2 linked regions of the Homo sapiens genome follow. The protein of the gene in region 2 purifies or fractionates together with the protein of the main gene of each other region. This does not show direct contact. Each region holds a gene or a part of one and is shown on either strand. Other genes may lie near its edges.

Region 1 (6,962 bases), on a different chromosome or scaffold from region 2:
ATTGCTTGAGTCTAGGAGTTTGAGACCAGCCTCGGCAACATGGCAAAACCCCATCTCTACAAAAATTACAAAATTAGCTGGGCATGGTGCTGGTGCATGCCTGTAGTCCCAACTACTCAGGGGGCTGAGGCTGGAGGATCGCTTGAGCCCAGTTGGAGGCTGCAGTGAGCTGAGATCACGCCGCTGTACTCCAGCCTGGGTGACAGTGTAAGACCCTGTCTCATAAATAAATAAATAAAGTTAAAAATGCTGCTAGTTAAAATAGAAGTTAATTTCCTAAATGCTTTCTTCTGTCTTTGGTATGAATATATTTACCTACGAATATATATATATATATTTATGATCTTCTGCTTAGGGTTTAAGATTCCAACATTGCACTTCATTACTATTCTTATTTTCTCTAACAGTTTTGAAAATTATGAATGTGTTGTGTTAGTAAATTTCTTTCTGAGGAAAACTGGACTTTTAGACCTTAAAGGTGTTCAAATTTTGTTTTTTAAACAATACCTCCCACAGTGGTAGACTTTATCACTGTATAAAAATGTACAGTGGTTTTATTGACATGTACATTCCAATATGTTTACAGCTGCAAGATAATGAGGCACACTCAGTATTGCACTTCATTAAAATTTCAGGCTCAAACTTAACCTAGAAGTTTAAATGAAATTGCATTTGTAATTTAGTAATTCTTATACAGGACAAACATTGATATGTTTATATACAGTGTGATACTTATTACATTTATATGCTGTCCTAACACAATGTTTTTTTTTTTTTTAAATAACAGTCTAGGAAATAAACCAGAATATTCCTCTTTTTATCCCCACCCGTGATGCAATTGTACAGGATTACAAAAAGGCAGTATACAATAAACAATGATTATTTTTCTTTTTTGCTTGAAAGCCAGCATCGTTCTTAGTCCATGGGCATGGCGATTCTTTTATATCAATTATCTATAAATGTCCAATGCTTCACAGGCCAATGACGGTAATGGCCACATGCAAACACCTCACAAGTTTGATGTCATTTGTTCAAAAGAAGATAAACCAAAATAATGGGGAAACTTTTCATAGCAAGAATTATGTACATGGTATTTGGTATCCTTCTTGCACTGTGAATGGTTCATTTTCATGGATGTAAAAATGGTCCCGTCCTTATCCTGAGCAGAGTTTAAACTTCACCGCATCCTCTTGGGGGATGAAGGCAATTTTTCTCTCTGTAGACAAAGGATCTGCGTGTTCTAAAAAGTGTGGGCATTTCTGCACACTCCACATCCCAGAGCAAACTCTTCCCCAGTGGGTGGATGAACAACATGGAGTGGACATTCAGTTCCTTCTAACTGCTTGCCTTTGGGACCTGTATAAATTTGAAGGAGGCAAAGGAAAATAATGTTTTAAGAATACACACATATAAACCTCACAGAAATATAAATCACTGATAGGTTATTCAAAGAAATAACATGACTATGGTTATACAAATATAACATTTAGAAATTTTTCTTCTGATCACAAAAGTAAAAAATGTTCACTATAAAAAATTCAACACAGATATGTACAATGGAAGAAGTGATGGGGTCCCTTACTCACTATATCCTGCCTAGAGAGGATCACTTCGAGCTACAGATCTTTTTCTATTAATAAATGCATCAGATATATCATTTTAAAACAGAGTAATGAACAAAAAAGGTCACAAAACCCCTCAATTTAGTCTGGCAGAACATTATTTTTCTGAATAGAAAACAGGGAGATTTTTGTGTAGAATGTTTTTCTATAAGTAAAAACATTTAAGTTTAAAGAAGCCATGTTTTCCCTTTTATTTTTACTGATGAAAAAGCCCACACTGGTAAAATGGGAAGGCCAATGATTCCTGTAATTTTTAAAAGTACCTGAAGGATATTAGCAGGAAAATGAAAGTTATCAGGTTAAAAACATGAACAATGTTATAAAATACAATGTGGAAAAAACACTTTGGGGAAGATATGAATTTGTTGATAATAATCAAAGTAGGCCTATCAAATGTACCAAAAACAGTATTTTAAAAAAGAAAATTATTATATTAATGTGCTTCACGTCATGGGTTTCATATCATTTAGAAAAGATTTTTAGTTCCTTTAGAAACCAGGAGGCTTACTTTGTCAGAAAAACACGCTAGGCTTATACTTGAAAGCAGAGTCCCTATTTAATAGTAGATGAAGGAATAGGAACTCTGCATTAGTTTTCTACAGCTAGTTTTCAAAATAATAAATCTAAATTCTGATTGTGCTTGAGAGAAAAATATCACGAGATTGGATGGAATGAGCTTACACTGATCAATGAGGAATGACGTCTCATTTACTTTACCTTTTCTAGGTTTAAAAACATTTCTGACATAAGAGAAGGAAACCATGATGGATAAAAGGCTAGCATTTATAAAGCTCTTAGACTGCACAGTATAATACCCAATAAATGTTGGCTATTACTACTATTACTGAACAACCACAAACTGAGGCCTGATCTAGAGGAATAAAAAGTAAGTTCTGTACAAGAGTAAGACCAAGACATTAGAGTGTCAAACTGAAGACAGCTAATCTCAGAGAAGTCAACTTCAGGTTAGAGCTAACAGGCATGAGAGTGGCAATGAGTGCCACCTCAGACAAATGCAGGCACAGACCTCAGGATGGGTCAGCATGGGAGGATGCCAGAGGTTTGCTAGAAAGTTAATTATTCCTGTTAGAAAGTAGTTCAGTAGCTCCTGCTCCAAATCACACTGCAGATTGGTGCCCACCCCACCAGTGGGTGGGGGAGAGTGCGCAGGATGGGGACACTCAATGGCAGATCTAGTTCAGATACACAACATATCAATGGTGGTGACACAAACTGCAGCCCTTGGGTTTTTTCAAGGAAAAAATGAGTCATTTACTCAACAAATATTTACCGCATGCCTAATATATGAAGGGCATTCTTAGGTACTTGGGATTAAAGATGAAAAGTGCATGGCTCCCATCTTCAAGGTGTTCACAATCCAACATGGTGGTGAGAAATAAAAATAGTGAAAACACACCTGCAAACATCTGAGTGCTTACTACTGAGGCACTGTTCTAGTATATCAGCTACTTAACCATTTAACAGTCATAGGAGGCAGAAACGATTATCCTCATTTTGTAGATATGAAACTGAAGTAAAATTATTTTTTCTGATTCTTAGATACCTCATCTTTAAAATAGACACAGCAATACCTAACTCATGGGGTGCTGTGAAGATTAAGTATCCTGGCACGAGAAGGTAGTCAATAAATATTTTAGAAAGAAATGGATAGAGGGATTATGCTATGGTCTGGATGTTTTTGTGCTCCTCCAAATTTATATACTGACGTGTTAATGAAAGGAGTTAGTTTGCCTTAGGTAGATAGCAAGGGAAGGGTCCCCAGAGAGCCCCAGGTCCACAGGTCAGTGCCTCATCCCCATATAACATAAAAAGCAGTTGGGGAAAAAAAGTCAAGCTGCAGGCACCGATGAGGGAACTAGCACAGGGCATTGTGCCTAAAGACATGCCCACGGCTGCACAGACAGAAAAACCTTCAATCAGATAAAGGACAAGACCTGGGATAGAAATGCCTTTGTCCTTTGTATAGTCAGGGGGCTCTCTCCTTTTGTGGGCATAGGCACAGTGGGCTCCAGTGGGTTCCTGGGCCAGGGTCCCGGGCCAAGCTGAGTCACGCTGCGGGCCAAGACAGCCCACAGACTAAGCACATTCCTTCCCCTTTCCAGTCCATAAAAACCCTGGGCCCCAGCCTCACGGGAGCATCCTGTTTGGGCCCCCCTCTCTGCTGGCAGAGAGCTTTCTTCTTTTGCTTATTAAACTTTCGCTCTAACCTCACCTTTGTATCTGTGCTCCTTAATCTTCTTGGAGGTAGGACAAAGAACTCCTGGCATTATCTCAGACAATGAGAGACTGTTATATCTTGGTGCACTGCTGAGACTACAACATTAACACCAATGTTATGGTGTTAGGAGGTGGAGCTGTGGGAGGTGATGAGGTCATGGGGTGGAATCCATGAATGGGATTAGTGCTCTTCCTATCAATGAGACCCAGGAGAGGCCCCCTGCCCTTCCACGACAGCAAGAAAGTGCCACCTATGAGGCTGAGAGTGGGTCCTCACCAGACACCTCGACTGCTAATTCCTAGATCTTAGACTTCCTGGTCTCCAGAACTGTGAGAATAAATTTCCACTGTTTATAAGCTACCCAGTTTACAGTATTTTGTTATAGCAGCTTGAATGGATGAAGACTGATTATCTAAAAATATTAGAATTAACAGGGTTGAGAGTGGTTAGAGAATTGCTTCTTCTGTCCTTCTAAGTAAACTGTATATGGCCATCTTCCCTACTCACATCCCTGTGGGATCTCCTTTATTCTATTCCAGTTCTCTAAATGAATGGATGAGTTAGAGGGATGTGTGAGGCTGGGAGAGTATACCTCAATCTCAGTGTATGTTCTTAGGCCAGTTCATTAACCTCCCTAGCCCTCAATTTTCCATTTGATAACATAGGGATAATACCATCTACTCGCAGATTGTAAAAATGGAGCAAATATGTGTGAAAATGCCCAGGACCGAGGTCATTCCTTCCTTCTGCCAACTCTGGCTCCTCCCCCGCCTCCCTCCTGTGATTCCTTTGTGTTGGCTGCCCTGATCCTGTGAGGAAACCTGACCCTCCTCTCTCAGCTACTACCCACCACTGAGTTCTCTAAAGTGTTTCATTGTTAACTTCCTTATTTTTAGCATTCTTATTTCTGTTTTTTAACATAGAGGAAACTTTAAGTAAAATCTAGATTTCCCCTGAAGATACTGCTTGCCTTAAATCTTTCTCAACTGGAGGCTGGTTATCTCCCAAGCTCCTCCAGGTCATATGGCTACAACGTGTGACTGATTTTTCTCTTGGCTCCTATTTCTTTCCAGACCACAACCTACAACTTTCATTCAATAATTGCCCTTCCTCCAAGCTCAAGTCATCTAGAGTCATCTAGAATACTGCCCTTTCCACACTCCCTTCACTTGCTGACCTCCAGCACATCACCCCCTCCCTCCAAGCATGGCTCACATCTCTGTTCTGTCCATTATCCTCCATAACCTGGCTTCACATCATTCTGGCCTTGCTTCTTTCAAAGCCTGCTACTTCTATTAAAAAAAAACAGTATTTGAGGAGAAACAGTAAAACAATTTTTATTTGACATGAGCAAATGGTAAAAAGTAGTCATACTTGAAAAAACCCTACTTATCTTTATTTTGAAATGGATAGTATATGTTTCACATGGTTTAAAATCAAAATGTTAAAAATGATAACACAATTGGAAGCAACTTTCCCTAGTCTCTACCCTCATCTTTTTCTTGCTTTTCCCAATAGTTAATCAATAGTATTAGTTTCTTGAGTATCTTTCCAGGGGTTTCTTTATGTAAATATAAACAAATATGACTAGATAGTCTCATTTTCCCTCTTACAAAAGGCAGCATACTGCATACTCTGTTCTGCAATTTGCTTTTTTTTTTTGAAACAGCTCTGTCGCCCAGGCTGGAGTGCAGTGGCGCAATCTTGGCTCACTGCAACCTCCGCCTCTCAGGCTCAAGTGATTCTCTGGCCTCAGCCTCGTGAGTAGCTCGGATTACAGGTACCCGCCACCATGCCTGGCTAATTTTTGTACATTTAGTAGAGATGGGGTTTCACCATGTTGGCCAGGCTGGTCTCGTACTCCTGACCTCAAGTGATCCACCTGCTTCGGTCTCCCATAGTGCTGGGATTACAGGTGTCAGTCACACCACTTGGCCTAATTTACTTTTTTCATCTGATGCTATCTCCTGAAGATCTTTCCAAATCAGCACACAGAAACACCATCCTCACTCTTTTTTTTTTTTAAACTGATGCGTAATATTAGCCACTACCCTACTGGACACTAGCATTGTTTATACATTTTTATTATCATAGCAAAGCTGTAGTTAATAACCTTGTTTATTTGCCCTTTTTTACTGTCCTCACATTTGTAGCTATATCCCTGAAGAGGGAGTGCTGAAGGGTTGATACGCTGGTAATTTTGAGAGGCACTATTAAGCTGTTTTCCGGAGAGGTCTATCACTTGCACTCTGATAGGCAGCAGATGGCAGTGTGTGTTTTCTAGCTTTGACAACACGGTATATTGTGTTGTATGTACTTGTGCATGTATTTTCACTAATTTCAGATATATCTTATGTAAAATTCTCTCCTATGGTTGCACGGACCTCTCCTTCCACTTCTCTCACTTCCGTGAAGCCTGGTATTCCACCTCACCGTTGCCACTAGCCTCCTGTCCTCTTCCAGTATTTTCAGCTTCTTTTTGGTTTCATACTTCTTTCCCCTCAGCCTGCTTTCCATAGACAATAATTTCTCCTGTATTCTGAGTGGTTTCTTTAATTCCCTTGACTTTCTGATGCTCACTACACTACTGATTCCCAGCCATTCTAGATTAAATCACTTGGTTCATTTTATGGCAACGGTTCCAGGCTTCGTTAAAAAAAAAAAAAAATCACAGAATCCTTTTAAATGGTTCTGTAATATTGAACTTCATATGACTTTTTAGTGCTGAACAGCCATCTTTTCACCAATCCTTAGTAGACTTCATTCTCACTCCCCATGAGATCTGCTCCGTCACAGCTAACTTCTCACTCATGATGATGAGCCTGCTTCCTAATTCACCCAGAAAGTCATAAGCTTACAAGGATCAAGGAATTCCTCCTGCTTCTTTAGGCTAGTTTGAATTGAGTTTCTGTCACTTGAAACAGAGCTTTCATATAATGTTTACATAAAACTATGGTATATAGATCATAATCGTGATTTTAAAATATTAAAAGCATACCTGCAGGACAGTGTGGTAGTTCTTCCTTAGGAATGCTAGTCATTCTTTGAAAATCATCATGACAAGCATTACAAAAATGTGTTGTTCCAAAACAGAAAAAAAC
Region 2 (7,858 bases):
AGGAAACAAGTTGTTTTCCTGTGGCACTTCTCAAGGACCTTGCCCTCGCCCCAACCCCATTTTAGAAAATAGGGCTGAGATTTAATATGTGTCTGTCACAGATGTGGCTGGTGGAGAAAGACTAAGCCAAAAGAAAATCAGCACAGGTAAACACTGCACTAGAGGTTGGAGAAGCTAAGGTTTCTGGAAGACCAGATTTCTGGACCTCTTAGTCCAAGGGAATAAAGGATAGGGGGAAGAGTTGGTGAAAGACAAACACACACACACACACACACACACACACACACACACAAAGCAGTTTACAATACAGTGAGACCGAGCAAGGTGACTCATGCCTGTAATCCCAGCACTTTGGGAGGCTGAGGCAGGCAGATTGCCTGAGGTTGGGAGTTTGAAACCAGCCTGGCCAACATGGTAAAACCCCGTCTCTACTAAAAACACAAAATTAGCCAGGTGTGGTGGCTCATGCCTGTAATCCCAGCTACTCAGGGGACTGAGGCAGGAGAATCGCTTGAACCTGGGAGGTGGAGGTTGCGGTGAGCTGAGATCGCGCCATTGCACTCCAGCCTGGGCAGAAAGAGTGAAACTCCATCTAAAAAAAAAAAAAAAAAAAAAATATATATATATATATATATATATATATATATGCAGTGAAGACAAGATAAAATCTGGGGACGGTGGTTGCCAGGACAGGGCTCTCAGAACAGCTGGAAGCTGGAGTAGGGAGGATGGTCTCAGCAAGGACTTCCCAGAGCAAATGAAATTTGGGCTGAGTCTCAAAGAAGCCAGTCCAAGTGCTCTGTAAGAAGGACCAGCCAGGTCATAGAAAATGAAATACAAACACCCAATAACCAAGCAACAATGAAATACTACTTTTCACATACTGTATTAACAAAATTTAAGATGCTTGCTGCAGCCAGACCTGGTAAGTACTTGGGAGATAAGCTCTCAATACCAACTCAAGGGGGAGGGAGGAGGGGCGGAGAGGAGATTGGTGCAGGCTTCTTCGAAAATAATTTGGAAGCATCCACCCTTTAACCAAGCAATTCCAGTGCTAGAAATTTACAAGAGGAATATGCTCTCAAGCGTTCACCAAGATATATGTACAAGGAAGTTCACCACAAAACGTGGAAACATGTCATGTCTATTCATTGATAAAATAATGTATACTATGTCTACATAGGAAGAAATATGATACGGCCCCCATGGCGCACGGAAAAAAAATGAAGTCCTCTCTTAAGCCCTTCTCCATTCCTCTTACGCCATTTATGTAACAATATGGCTCTAAAATGACTTGCTTGAGCATGTCTTCCCCACTGAAATTGCAGATTTTTGAATGCAGGAATCTGTCCTTTTATGTCCCACACAGAGACCTTTGGCAAATACAGAGTAAGTTTCCAGTTGCAATTTGTAAGTTTGCCAGTGAAAACAGAAAGCCATTAACTTGTTAATGAAGTGTGGCCAGGACACATTGGGTGGATAATGCTTCCGCAGGAGTGTAGCTCAGGTGTTAACAGAAGCTAAGCTTGATGAAATTAGAGGCCCCAGCATTCCTCAGCTGGAGGGTACATACATATACAGAACTCCCCCGCCCCCTCTGCTCTCTCTTATCTTCTGGCCTGCCTGGATGTTCAAGGGAACAATGACAGAGGTAAGACCTAAGTGCCCTATGATAAAAGAAGGCTTTTACCTTGAAATACTGTCATTGTAGTGCAGACATGGCATTCTTTTGTTAACTCTTTGGTTGGAATTTAGTTCTACGTGTTCTCAACTATTTAAACAAGGTCGAATTGGCTTTTGATAGCTAAAATTGATCCCATTCTCCAAGTTTATTTTCTTCCTTGAATTTTAGGCAGACACAGGAAGTCTGTCCTTTGATTATGATGTATTTCATTCCACCATTCTTGTTTGGATGGTTTTAAGTCAAATGCTTATTTGTGTGATTTTTAAACACAATTCTGCCCCAGTTTTTAATACACAATGTCTCAAGGGCAGTACCAAGAAATGGCCAACACCAAGAGCATTGTTTTTCATTTTCTGCTCTCAGTGCCTTTTGTAAGGGATGAGATGGGCTGCCTGTGATTGGGGAACCCCCGTTGCACAGCACTTCCCAATCCTAGGCCTGACCTTTTGACACAAAGCACTCATTGGCCTGGAGGCTGGCCAGCAGCCCAGTTTCAACAGTGACCAAGCAGAGGTGACCAGTGGCCATCCTAGGGTAGCCATTCAATTCCCCCACCTGGAGGCAGCAACAACTTTTTGCAGTTAGTACAATTAGAATCAACAATTACTGTTCTTTCTCTCCAGCCTCACAGTGGGGTTACTTCTCACAACTGTTTCTCCAGCGCCAAACTCCAGTCTACAGGCCGCCCAGTAGTAGACATCAAATACCTGTTAAATAGCCCTTACATCTCCAGCCCAACGGCAAATATCTAACCTCTCTTAAACACCACAGCCCTTCCCTTCCCCTTCTCCCCACCCCCCATCCCAAAACCTGGCCCAGGCTCTGAATACCCTGGATCCACTTGGCTTCCTCTGCAGTCAGTACCTATGGGGAATGGGAATCTCTTCAGGGGGTTCTGGTCCTTAGAGAAGGGATTTTGTGTGGCTGAAAAGCTGGCATCCTGGGGTTCTGGTCCCGTCAATGACAACATCGCCAGACTGGAGACCTCAGTTACTTCCTCTGAAAATGCAGTGATTTCCAGGGGTCCTATTTAAGCTCTAAAAATTCCACAAGAGCTTTAGATAAGGAAATAGCAACGCAGGGGTGTGTTCTTTTGCCAGTTCTGCCACAGGCCTGCCCAGTCTCTAAAGACAAGACATCCAAATCCCCCAATAGAACTAGTTGTCTTGTCCATAAAGTGAGACTAATATTGTGGGCGCTACTTATCTACTTAGCACCTTGGACTGGTGAGGACTGTGGTGCACAAGCTACCTTACAAATGTACCACACTGAGTAACATCTTTAAACCTCCTTGCAGCTCCAGGGCTAGCCTTCTCCTTTGCGGAGCCCTCCCCCACCTCCGGCCTCCTAGAGCTTCAGGCCATGTTCCCCTGTCCCCTGTGAATCTCAGCATGCTACCTGAAGCATTTCACCTGAAAAGGCCACACAGGGAGGAGGCGAAGCGCAGCAGGAATGAAATAGTCAACTGCTGTGGAGTTGGAAATGTTGCTGCATCCCACCATTGACTGGATGGGGCCTCACTCCCCCAATACAAATTATTTTACGTTTGCTTCTCCCAAGATCATGTGTAAGGCCGGGCGCGGTAGCTCATGCCTGTAATCCCAGCACTTTGGGAGGCCGAGGCGGGTGGATCATGAGGTCAGGAATTTGAGACCAGACTGACCAACATGGTGAAACCCTGTCTCTACTGAAAATACAAAAATTAGCCGGGCGTTGTGGCGGGCGCCTGTAATCCCAGCTACTCAGGAGGTTGAGGCAGGAGAATGAGGCAGGAGAATCACTTGAACCCAGGAGGTGGAGGTTGCAGTGAGCCAAGATCGTGCCATTGCACTCCAGCCCGGGTAACAGAGGGAGACTCTGTCGCAAAAAAAAAAAAAAAAAAAAAAAAAAAATCATGTGTAGAAGTAAATAACACCTCTTCCCAGCACCTGTGGATCCATGGCATTCACACAGGTAGGCACTGACGCTGAAATGGCCTCAGATGCTACCAATTCTTTCTGCCGAGGCCTAAATCCAATAAACAGAGATGGATGGAAACAACTATCTAATAAAAGTTTCGCATTTGTGTGCCTGGCAACATTAAGTAACCGTCAGGCTTTCCTTTAGAAATTGGAATTAAATGCGATTTAGAAACTATTAACGACTTTGGGCGTATTTAATAACACATGAAATAACCCGGAGGATTGAAATGTTAGGTGAGGCGACTCCGGCTCATAGACGCGCCTCTCCATCTGGGGCGTCTGGCACTTAGTGGAACCACTCAATAAACACGTTTACCCCTGCAAGCGGCACATCAGAGTCCGGGGGTAATTCTCGGTGTCGTGGGGCCAGGACGGCGAGGGGCTGGAAGAGGCCGCCCTGTGGGAGCTGGGAGGCTGAGATAAATTCCCGTGATTGGGGGCTGAAATGGCCTCCCATGCCGGACTGCCGTGGTTCTAGAACTTTTTCCTGGAACAGGCCGGCACTCCCACTGGAGAGTCCCAGCTGCTGCGCCTCTGGCCGCCCCTCCCCTCTCCCGGGCACCTGGCGCCGGCTCCCGCGTCCTTTCAGGAATTCACGTCCGCCTGGAATTTGCACTTCAAGTCTGGAGCCCCCAAGGAACCCCTCCTGACCCTGAACTTCTATCTCAGTTTCAAGCTTCCTAGTCTTCCCCACACACACACACCTAGCTCCTCAGGCGGAGAGCACCCCTTTCTTGGCCACCCGGGTATCCCCCAGGGGGAGTACGGGGCTCAAAACACCCTTCTGGAAAAACAAAGGTGGAAGCAAATTTCAGGAAGTAAAACTTCCTGAAATAAAATAAAATATCGAATGCCTTGAGACCCATACATTTTCAGGTTTTCCTAATTAAAGCAATTACTTTCCACCACCCCTCCAACCTGGAATCACCAACTTGATTAGAGAAACTGATTTTTCTTTTTTCTTTTTTTTTCCCAAAAGAGTACCTCTGATCATTTTAGCCTGCAACTAATGATAGAGATATTAGGGCTAGTTAACCACAGTTTTACAAGACTCCTCTTCCCGCGTGTGGGCCATTGTCATGCTGGTGGGCGTCCCGCCCACCTGAAAGGTCTCCCCGCCCCGACTGGGGTTTGTTGTTGAAGAAGGAGAATCCCCGGAAAGGCTGAGTCTCCAGCTCAAGGTCAAAACGTCCAAGGCCGAAAGCCCTCCAGTTTCCCCTGGACGCCTTGCTCCTGCTTCTGCTACGACCTTCTGGGGAAAACGAATTTCTCATTTTCTTCTTAAATTGCCATTTTCGCTTTAGGAGATGAATGTTTTCCTTTGGCTGTTTTGGCAATGACTCTGAATTAAAGCGATGCTAACGCCTCTTTTCCCCCTAATTGTTAAAAGCTATGGACTGCAGGAAGATGGCCCGCTTCTCTTACAGGTATGAGCTAATCTTGAATGTGAACTTTTTTTGATTGCTAGAGATTGCCAGCTTAGGAAGTAATGTTCTACACCTGTCATTTGATTTTTCTCTTGCTCAAGCCTTAAAAGAGCTGCCAACCGCACTGCTGTTTTTCCTGAAAGACCTGGAATTTCACATGGTTACTTCTAACTTTGCCATTGGCTTTTAACATTTTCGTGTTAATGTTAATTTTCATTTTATGTTAATGACTCTGCCTATGAAATAGTGTTTCTTTATTCTTGTACAAATAAAGGTCAGTACTACAACCAAATTTAAAATCTTCCGAAAAGATTAAAGGTATAAGCAGATTCAATACTTGGCAAAACTATTAAGATAATAGCAAAAAAAAAAAAAAAAACCCACATTTTTTACCTAAAAACCTTTTAAGTGATTGGTTAAAATAGTTTGGCCGGGTGCGGTGGCTCACGCCTGTAATCCTAGCACTTTGGGAGGCAGAGGCGGGTGGATCACCTGAGGTCAGGAGACCAGCCTGGCCAACATGGCAAAACCCCGTCTCTATTAAAAATACAAAAATTAGCCAAGCATGGTGGCGGGCACCTGTAATCCCAGCTACTCTGGAGGCTGAGGCAGGAGAATTGCTTGAACTGGGGAGGGGAGGCAGTGAGCCGAGATCGCACCATTGCACTCCAGCCTGGGTGAAAAACCGAAACTCCCTCTCAAAAATAAATAAATAAATACAGTAGTTTGTAAAATGATTCATCGGTAACATGGGATGCAGCTATTTTTTAATCCTTATATGAAAATTGTATGCAGGGGAAAACATGTGAAATAGAAGATAAAAGACATATACCTACTTAAAATTAGGTACTTATGTGAGGACAGGGCCTAAGAAATAATAATATATATTAAAAAGACTTGGATATTGGTGACTTTTTTTCAACATTTTTCTTTGTTACATGAATTAGCCATTAAAAAAAGAAAGATGGTGCTCTACAATTTCTTTTCAGTGATCTGTGGTCTTGTCCTTGTGATGAGAGGACCTGGGTGTTAACTTGTAAGGTTTTATTTCCTTTGTTTGGCTAACTCATGTCTGACTTCCTCTTCCTAGTGTGATTTGGATCATGGCCATTTCTAAAGTCTTTGAACTGGGATTAGTTGCCGGTGAGAGACCTTTTGTTCTTTTGATCACTCTCAATTTTTATGTGGCCTAAAATACAGACTCCATGAATTGATTTTGTCGTTAAGGGCTGGGCCATCAGGAATTTGCTCGTCCATCTCGGGGATACCTGGCCTTCAGAGATGACAGCATTTGGCCCCAGGAGGAGCCTGCAATTCGGCCTCGGTCTTCCCAGCGTGTGCCGCCCATGGGGATACAGCACAGTAAGAACTGCCTGACTTCGATGCTTCTGCCCTGGCCCTTCATGTGTCTCCTGAGTATCTTTCCAACACTCTTTCACCTAAAAGGGCACCTGGTTCTGGAACTGTGCAGGTGCTGGACTGCTTTTGGTTTTGGAAGTGAGACAAGGATTGTGTATTTTACTTCCCTAGAGTGCAGTTTTCCTCCCCTGAGTCCACTTCACACTGGGGAACCCAGAACCACCACTGGCCTATGCATGAAAATGACTTCTCTGCTCAAAGGCACAGAGACTTACTCTGATACAACACATTGGTGTTGTATTAACCTTCGCTTACAGGAATTGCCCTTGCACTTTTCCATCCCTACACCCTCAGTCATCTGTTCTTACCTTTCAGGTAAGGAGCTAAACAGAACCTGCTGCCTGAATGGGGGAACCTGCATGCTGGGGTCCTTTTGTGCCTGCCCTCCCTCCTTCTACGGACGGAACTGTGAGCACGATGTGCGCAAAGAGTAAGCAATTCAGAGGGGCGGGGAGCCGTGGAGAGGAGAGAGAAAGGGAAGTGGAAATTTCAGACCCAAGGCTATCGCCTTACCTGTTCATTCTCAGGAACTGTGGGTCTGTGCCCCATGACACCTGGCTGCCCAAGAAGTGTTCCCTGTGTAAATGCTGGCACGGTCAGCTCCGCTGCTTTCCTCAGGCATTTCTACCCGGCTGTGGTAAGCGGAGGTTCTCCTCTTTCTTTTGCCCTTTGAAGTTACGTAGTTGCCTTGGGGGGTGCTTAGTTAGCAGGCTCTCCTTGTACCTCTTGTCTTGCTAGAGCCTGGCAGCCAAAGTTCTGCTTATAAAAGCATCGCAGACTCCTGATGAGATAGTTGCCTTGGCCTCTTTGATATTTATTTCCTCGGGAACCTGGCTAGTCCTGCTGCCTTTCAGATAGAGATGTATTTCAAGTCTATTTGACATTTTATGGTCTGAACTTCTATTGAGGAAAATAAACAAGTCTCGGTCTCTTGTTAAACCAAGAGATGTTCTCTGGTGTTCCTTTCCTTTGGGTAGGGGGACCCAAACCAGGATGGGCAGCTCATTTAGAGCCCACCCTGACGACAAATTCTATCAGAGGCTTGGCCCCTTGCTAGTCCTTTAGAAACTTCCAGAGTCCTAAAAGTCCCTGGTAACCCCCTCCCCATACCTTACCATGACTGGTCACAGAACCCTTACCATGACTGGTCACAGAACCCTTTCACCTTCTTGATTTTTACTGATTTGAGGAATACAATGAAAAGAAGGGCAGCACCTGGAGAGGAAAAGAGGCGACAGTCCTCTCTCCACCCTAGCCTGAGCCAGGTTTCTAGGGCCCCCCAAATTCAGAGACCTATTATAGTTCTGGGCCTTGGAGATGTTAGAAATGGAAAATATTCAAGTCCAGGAAGTAAATGAAAGCAAACA

Evidence for each region. The genes of interacting proteins can lie anywhere in the genome.
Region 1: the proteins of CRIPTO (region 2) and MYCBP2 purify together in Homo sapiens (affinity purification with mass spectrometry; 3 studies listed by BioGRID and IntAct, with this or other methods). This does not show direct contact.

Annotation. Positions count from the first base shown.
Region 1 is NC_000013.11:77,044,138-77,051,099, forward strand, and holds the end of MYCBP2 (E3 ubiquitin-protein ligase MYCBP2), read right to left. Parts: coding exon 6,860-6,962; intron 1,357-6,859; coding exon 1,241-1,356; 3' UTR 520-1,240; downstream 1-519. UniProt on the Homo sapiens protein: Atypical E3 ubiquitin-protein ligase which specifically mediates ubiquitination of threonine and serine residues on target proteins, instead of ubiquitinating lysine residues.
Region 2 is NC_000003.12:46,572,933-46,580,790, forward strand, and holds the start of CRIPTO (protein Cripto isoform 1 precursor), read left to right. Parts: upstream 1-4,855; 5' UTR 4,856-5,037; coding exon 5,038-5,072; intron 5,073-6,162; coding exon 6,163-6,215; intron 6,216-6,299; coding exon 6,300-6,434; intron 6,435-6,806; coding exon 6,807-6,921; intron 6,922-7,018; coding exon 7,019-7,128; intron 7,129-7,858. UniProt on the Homo sapiens protein: GPI-anchored cell membrane protein involved in Nodal signaling. Cell-associated CRIPTO acts as a Nodal coreceptor in cis. Shedding of CRIPTO by TMEM8A modulates Nodal signaling by allowing soluble CRIPTO to act as a Nodal coreceptor on other cells.